2 linked regions of the Homo sapiens genome follow. The protein of the gene in region 2 purifies or fractionates together with the protein of the main gene of each other region. This does not show direct contact. Each region holds a gene or a part of one and is shown on either strand. Other genes may lie near its edges.

The links. The genes of interacting proteins can lie anywhere in the genome.
Region 1: the proteins of DHRS3 (region 2) and GAP43 purify together in Homo sapiens (affinity purification with mass spectrometry; one large-scale study listed by BioGRID and IntAct). This does not show direct contact.

Annotation. Positions count from the first base shown.
Region 1 is NC_000003.12:115,630,010-115,633,509, reverse strand, and holds part of GAP43 (neuromodulin), read right to left. Parts: intron 1-3,500. UniProt on the Homo sapiens protein: This protein is associated with nerve growth. It is a major component of the motile 'growth cones' that form the tips of elongating axons. Plays a role in axonal and dendritic filopodia induction.
Region 2 is NC_000001.11:12,569,412-12,573,999, forward strand, and holds part of DHRS3 (short-chain dehydrogenase/reductase 3), read right to left. Parts: intron 3,443-4,588; coding exon 3,317-3,442; intron 1-3,316. UniProt on the Homo sapiens protein: Catalyzes the reduction of all-trans-retinal to all-trans-retinol in the presence of NADPH.

The DNA of each region.
Region 1 (3,500 bases), on a different chromosome or scaffold from region 2:
ACCACACTTGAGATAAGTTCCTTCTGACTCGGGTAGCTAACCCACATGTGGACTATGTGGACATATAGGTATATATGCAGGAGACTAATTCTCAACCAACTTACCCTCTCACTAGATTTACAAGTGTGGGCTTACCAAAATTGTCTCTAACCTATGTCACCCAGCCCTTTTTCCAGTCAGAGATATCGGCCCTGTGGCAGTTGCTAGGTGACCCAAGCAGGACCAATAAAATTCATTCATCCTCATTCTCTCTCTCTCTGTCTCTCTCCCTCTGTCCCTCTCTCCCTTTGTCTGTCTCTCTCTTATCTCTCTCTTTCTCTCTCATCATTTAAAATTTGAATTGTAGCTGGGATTATTAATAACTGAGTCTTTTTTGATGCAGGGCCCCAGAAAGAGTTTATGAATTCCTGTTATTGAAATTCTACCCTGGTTCCCATAGGCTTCGTTGTTCAACTTACTAATTTCATATGATCGCTGCTTTTTTTCTTTTTCCAATAAATTCCTTTTATAGACTCTTAAAGTTGGTTTTGGATACTTGTTCCCAATCAAAAAACGCATATATAATAGAAGTAGTGTGTTCTGAGGCAGAAGAAGAAAGAAACAGGGAGAAAGGGATGTAGCTAGAGTGAAAGTTTAAAGGTGATACCATTAACCAAATATAAATATAATTAAAGAAATCATTATTTCCTTCTGGACACCAGTTTATTTTCAAATTTCTAGTTAACACACCTTTCTATTGCAGTCTACATGAGCCCTTTGTATAAAAGTATTTTGGGAAAATATGTACAATACTAATTTTTTTATGCTAAACTTTTGGCTTCTAGGAAAAATAGGATTTCTTAGACTAACTTGATCCAGTTATTATACTTTAAAGTATTTCTAAATGTTATCCATATGTTTAAAAACTCAGTTTCTTTGGTTTGTAGAATTCTGTGCTTATAGGAGAATCTGTTAAATTTTGTTGTTTTAAAGTGGTAATTTATCCCAGTCATGCCCAGGGACACAGAAGAACTATAATGTCCTTTGTGGAGATCTTGAGGGCTCAAAAGATTATGGCATTTAGAGTTGAGTTTGGAAAGGTTTAGGATTACATATCACCTCTCTAATCAAGGTTTATTCCTGTTGTATTGAGGAGCCCTGAAGTCAGGTTGTGGAAATGGTGATCAAGGGATCATCTTTGAAATGTGCTTCCCCCAACCAAACTGTATCTACATTTTCAGTCTCCCAACCAGCCCTGCATTTTCTCTCCACTCTTCTGCCTGACTGGGCCCTCATGTGATGGATGTGAGCACAGCATGCCTGGCCATCTTAGTGCTGAGAACCCAGTTTGGAGGTGAAGTGGGGGTGGGTATAGAGGGGGAGGCAGCAAACTTAGCAAATGGAGAAGAAAAGAGATCTAAATGTGAGGAAAAGACTAAAACAGAAAAAGATAAAAAGAAAAACAGTGGGTATTTCTAATGCATTTGAAGTGATCCTTGGGTCTTGTAACACTTTGAATATTGGCTTATCTAAATTCTGTCACTGAAGTTTTCAAAGGAAATAATAAACAGATACTATGTTCCCATCCATTAGCATGGTTAATATTTACTCTGAGCCGTGCCCGGCTCATGCCTGTAATCCCAACACTTTGAGAGGCCGAGGTGGGTGGATCACTTGAGCTCAGCAGTTCAAGACCAGCCTGGGCAACATGGTGAAACCTTGTCTCTACTAAAAATTCAAAAGTGAGCCAGGCGTGGTGGCATGCAACTGTAGTCCCAGCTACTTGAGAGGCTGAGACAGGAGAATTGCTTGAACCTGGGAGGCGGAGGTTGCAGTGAGTCGAGATCACACCACTGCACTCCAGTCTGGATGGCAGCAAGACTCCATCTCAAAAAACAAACAAACAAAAAATTTACTCTGTAGAGTATGGGAATCAGGTGGAAATGGGGAATGTGTGTATTCTATACAGAGAGCAAGAGTACTTCTTGTTTGCTTAGAGCCATGAATACTTTAGTGCTCGATCTATGAAATTCCTTAATTAATAATACTTACATTTCAAAAACACATTGTTTGCAAAACACTTTTATTGTTATCTCTTTATTTGAGACTCACACCAACCTAATTTTAAGAAGAAAAGGTAAGACAGGATTTGGAGGTTCTTTTTATGTACCCACTACACAGATGAATATACTAGGCTCAGAAAGGTTAAATTACTTACCCAACATCACATGACAAGCAATTGGCAGAACCAGGTCTAGAACCCAGGGAAAGGATTTATTCCACTACAAAGACATGAAACAGGACATTAAACAAACAACATCTAAGAAAATAAGATCTGTAAATAATTAAGGATAGGAAATCTGGAAGATCACATTCCCGTGCTAAACCTGAATGAAATGACTGCAAGTGTGTCTCTCTGATCTAAGCAGACAGGAGAGGGAATTGAACTTTGACTACATCCACCTTGTGAGGGGGACCAATAGAGCTGAGCTTGCATTTACACAAAGCCCACGCTGAATAAGTAATCAGAAATGGTCGTCTGTCCCAGAACATCTCCCCTAATGACCCATCATGATGCTCCTTCCCTTCCTACATTTATTACTTCAACAAATATTTATTGAGAATCTAAGATGTGCCAGACATAGCTTAAAATACCTGTTTTGTCTATAAGTACTTTTTAGAAAGTTTGAAGAAACACACTTTTTCTTAAAGTTCTCCTTCCATAGCCTCACCCACTAAACACTAACATGAACTGGTATTACTTAATCAGAAAAACTCTACCTGGGTCTGACAGGAGGAGAAAATAATAGAAAAACTCAATGCCAAAGAGATTGGGAGCAGTAAGCAAGATATCAAGTGAGGGTATGGCAATTGACAAATACTACTGAACCTTACCAGTTGAAGACAAACTTCACTTACAAATTATTTAGTCTTTCTGCTGTTCTCAAGGACATGCCAATTCAGTCAGAGAAAATACACTACTTAGCGTCTGGCAAGAGTGTTTTCATGGAAAACAGTGGTTGCAATTTGTTCCATGCTGGGCACAATAGGACTACTTCAGAACCCAAGTCCCTTCAGTCTATTTAAACCTAAGAAAAATCCAATTCATCTGGTACTAACATTCCTTTAACAGTCATTTGAGGGACTACTTACCATTCACCCTCCCTATACCTCCAATCATGATTTATCTTTGTGAAATATTATTATGTGGATACTTCAGACGGAAGAAAAGAAATCCAAATGAAGGTAAAATTAATTTTTGAGCACACACACCTAAGCACAGGCCAGCACTACATGCATTTAAAGAAAAAAATATTGCTACTCTTAGTTGATTTATTTCATGGATCACACAGATTGATTTACGGTCTATTTGTAAGAGTTGTGAAGCAAAGCAGTGAGTGCAAGTACTTGGAGCCTCAAAGTAAGGGCATGTGAAGATCCAGAGTTGTGGTAACCAGAGAGGGTGGGGCTGTAATGTTGGTTGTTGGACGAGGAGGACATGGAGGGGAGATAGTGCCAGC
Region 2 (4,588 bases):
TATATATTTATGGGGTACATGAAATACTTTGATACAGGCATGCAAATGTATAATAATCACATCAGCATAAATGGGGTATCCATCACCTCAAGCATTTATCTGTTGTGTTACAAACAATCCAACTATACTCTTTTAGTTTTTTTATTTATTTTTATGTTTATTATATTTTTTTGAGACAGAGTCTCACTCTGTTGCCCAGGCTGGAGTGCAGTGGTGCGATCTGGGGTCACTGCAACCTCTGCTTCCTGGGTTCAAGTGATTTTCCTGCCTGAGCCTCCTGAGAAGCTGGAATTACAGGCATGCGCCACCATGCCCGCCTAATTTCTGTATTTTTAGTAGAGACAGGGTTTCGCCATGTTGGCCAGGCTGGTCTTGAACTCCTGACCTCAGGTGATCTGCCTGCCTCGGCCTTCCAAAGTGCTGGGATTATAGGCGTGAGCCACTGCGCCCGGCCCTTTTAGTTATTTTTAATCGTACAATTAAATTATTATTAACTATAGTCACCCTGCTGTGCTATCAAAGACTTGTTCTTATTCGGTCTATTTTTTGTACCCATTAAAAACAAATGATGGTTAGGTGCCACTAAGTAGGTGACAATGGCTTAATCTGTCTGTGCTCCTTGTCGAGGGGAGTGCTGACCTTCTCTCCCTTCATACAACACACTTTCAAAACCAGGCTCTTAGCATCTTGGTGCCCACAGGCAGCTCAGAGATCCATCGATCCCAACTGCCCCTGATTCCACAAAGATGACGGTGTGGATCTGAGGAATCAGGTTCGATTTGGGTGTCACATCCTCTGGGGAAGCGTCCTGGGCTCACCTTCAGGCTTCTCCTCGTACAACCGGAGTTCCGACGCTTCCCCAGCAAGCCCTGGTGTAGTCCCCACCCGTTTACTTGTCAAGCCTGTGGGGGCCTTCATGGCGGGTATTTCATCTCTGATCCCCAGGCCCTCACATGGGCCCGGCACAGAGAGGGCCCTCAGGCTGTTTGGTGACTCAAACTGAAGGGTCCTGGCCCACTCTAAGTACAAGATGAAAAGGGTTCACTTCCAGCTGGAGCAATCTGGAAGGCTTCCTGGGGGTGGTGGTATTAGAGTTGAGCCTTGCTTTCTCCTGGGGAAGGTGAGGAGGGATGCAGTTCAGAGAATGGGGAGCGGGGTGGCTCCTGCTTCCTGTTCAAAAGTAGTTGTGGGGAAGGTTGGAAAATGAAGGCTGAGGGCTTACTGTGGAGAGCGCTGAGGTGTTCTAGACCAACTTTTCTCTAGAAAGCTCTGGAAGTCTTCTAAGAAGCTCCCCTGAGGTGGAGGGTGGCAGCCTGACCTCAGTGAGGACCTGAGCCCCTGATCAACTAGGGGCTCCTAGAGACGGCTGAGGAGCATCTCAGACCCGAGGTCAGGATGGACTGAGGGAGGCCGAGGTGTGGCCTGGATGCCCCTGGGTGCCCCCTTCCCTGTGCCTCTGAAAGGGCTTTGAGTTTGGGGAAGAGAGGGCTGATCGGGCTTGCGCCTCAGTTTCGAGGTTTCTGTGCCCTGCATGTGTTGGGGCAGCCCCTCAGCTGGGGCTCACCATGTCCCAGCAGCCAGGGCAGAAGTTGGCTTTCCTGGGAGTGCATGTTGCATGAGAGCAGGGGCCAGCCTGGCACTTGGGGGCTTACCTTCCTGAAAAGGACTTCCAGGTCAGAGGGGCTCAGTCAGGAGGGGGCCAGAGCCCCAGGGGAGCCAAGAGCCCATGGTCACTTGTGGCACCAGGGACAAGGATCTCCTGCTGTACTAAGAGGCCCAAGAAAACTGAGTGTGGGACTGGGATGGGAAGGATTTGCTGCACAAAGCCTGGAAAGTTCTAGGGGAATAGGATGCCAGGCAAATTCTGGAGGAGGAGTCTCTCATTTATAAAGCCTGCCTCCCCAAAGTGGTCTGCCCTGCTACATCCCACCCGACTGGTACTAAGACGCTTCTGTGAATTCTGAGCCCTTGGCATCAAGATCCCCATGTTCCCTCTAATAGTAAACTTCCTGAGGGCAGGGGCTATGTCCAATAGGCTGTAGAACAGTGGTTCTCAAAGTGAGGTCCAGGAACCTTTGGGGTACCCGGGATCTCTTCAGGGGTCTGTGAGGTCAATTTTTTTTTTTTTTTTTTTTTGAGACGGAGTCTTGTTCTTGTTGCCCAGGCTGGAGTGCGGTGGTGCGATCTCGGCTCACCTCAACCTCTGCCTCCTGGGTTCCGGCAATTTTCCTGCCTCAGCCTCCCAGGTAGCTGGGATTACAGGCACACGCCACCACACCCAGCTAATTTTTTTTGTATTTTTAGTACAGACAGGGTTTCTCCATGTTGGTCAGGCTGGTCTCGAACTCCCAACCTCAGGTGATCCACCCACCTCGGCCTCCCAAAGTGCTGGGATTACAGGCGTGAGCCACCGTGCCCGGCCACATTGTTTCTGTAATAATACTAAGATGTTATTTGTCTTTTCACTTTCATTCTCTCAGTGAATGGTAGAATTTTCCAGAGGCTACGTGACACGAGATATCACAACAAATTGAAATCAGATGCACATATAAGAATCCAATTGTCTTCAATTAAGCCAAACAAAGAGATTTGCAAAAAGGTAGAACAATGCCACTCCTGACTACATTTATTTTGTTTTAGAATACATAACTAGTTGTCATAAAAATATATTTATATTAATGTAATGGGTTTGTTATAGCTATTTATAAATGAATAAATATTATAAACAAATGTATACAACTTACAACATTTTTCTGGCTTTTAATTTCTTTTTTGAGATGGAGTCTTGCTGAGTCACCCAGGCTGGAGTGCAGTGGCACGATCTCGGCTCACTGCAAGCTCCACCTCCTGGGTTCACACCATTCTCCTGCCTCAGCCTCCCGAGTAGCTAAGACTACAGGCGCCCACCACCATGCCCAGCTACTTTCTTTTTGTATTTTTAGTAGAGACAAGGTTTCGCCATTTTAGCCAGGATGGTCTCAATCTCTTGACCTCGTGATCCACCTGCCTCGGCCTCCCAAAGTGCTAGGATTACAGGCGTGAGCCACTGCGCCTGGCCCTGGCTTTTAATTTCTAATATAGTAAATAGCGATAGCTACAACTCACATTAACAAAAGCTCTTTGGGTTCCTCCATACTTTTTAAAACTCTAAGGGGCCCCGTGACTAACAAGTTTGAGAACTGCTGCCCCACAGTAAGTACAGTACATCAGCAGCAAATGTGCCAGCACTCCTCATGCTCATGCCCGCAGCAGACATGACTAATAGATCACATGCGTACTTTCCCCTGACCCAGAGTGTTCTTTCCCAGCCCCATACCTTTTCAAGATAACGAGGGCATGCATTGTCCATGGGAGGAGGAGGAGGGCCTGGTTGAGCTGCACAGCTTCCACTGTCCTCCGGGCCACCGTCTCCGGCTTCAGTGGGGGAAAGAGGTTGGGAAACCTGAACACAGGAAGAGACACAGTGGGTTTCTCCTGGAGAGGCATGTGCTTATCTGGAAGTCTTTATGAGGCTGACATGTCTGGGTCACCCTTTGGCTTTTCCTGTCTGAGAGATTCGAGGCCTGCTTGGAATACTCCCTCTACCCCACACCCATCCAGGTGCCACATTCCCTCACTCCTCCAGGCACACAGGGGTCTCTTCTTGAGTCAAGGACTTCTAGCCCACCCACTGGGGACCCACTCTCCCAAGCCCTCCAAGGGCTCCCAGTGCCCTAGGGCTTGGCCTTTCCATGGCCCTGCGTAATCTGGGCCCTGGTTGTCCTTCTGAGTCCTTTTCCCTACACTCTGCTCCTTCAGGACAGGCCCATTTCTGTTCTTGTCACATCACATGCTCGGGTCAGGGCTTTTTGCCAGCTCTCTCAACAGCCTGGCTCTCTCCTCCCAGCTCCTCCTTTGGGAGACATTTCAGGCCAGTCCATCCAAAGCGACCTCTGATCCTGTCCCCTGCTAATTTCCTTGACCGCGTTCACCCCACCTAGGAAGACCTTGCTTTTTGGGTTGTTTCCTTGTCAGTGGCCTGTCTCCGCCATCAGGCAATGAGTTCCATGAGGGTGGAGGCCTGGTCGGTCCTGCTCCCCTGCATCTAGCACAGCATCTGATACATAGTATGTGCTCAATAAATACTTGAAGGACTGAACACACTGATGACTTGCTGCTTCCCAAATGTGTCCTGCTCATTCTGTCTGGAGGCAGGGGCTTGGCTAGCGATGGCTGGGGCTCAGCTTGCTGGTTCACTAACTCACTCACTGATTCATTGATTCAAAGATTTGCACAGTGCTTTCCATGGGATCTCAAAATGAATGAATGAATGATTGCATAAGCAAACATCAGGGGCTTCTCATGACTATTTAAAAGCATCTGACCCTAGATCCAAACAATGATGATGTTCCCTACGTGCCAGACTCATGTACAAATTATTCTCCTGATTTACAGATAAGGAAACCGAGGCTGTATTGAGTCAGTAGGGCGCTAAGGATTCAAACCTGGCCAATGCTCTATCACCTTTGCTCACTGCTCTTCCTGCCCTTCCTGGATCTATAGGTGCAGGGCTCATGTTGCTGGCTCTGACCCCAATCCCACAAAGAGC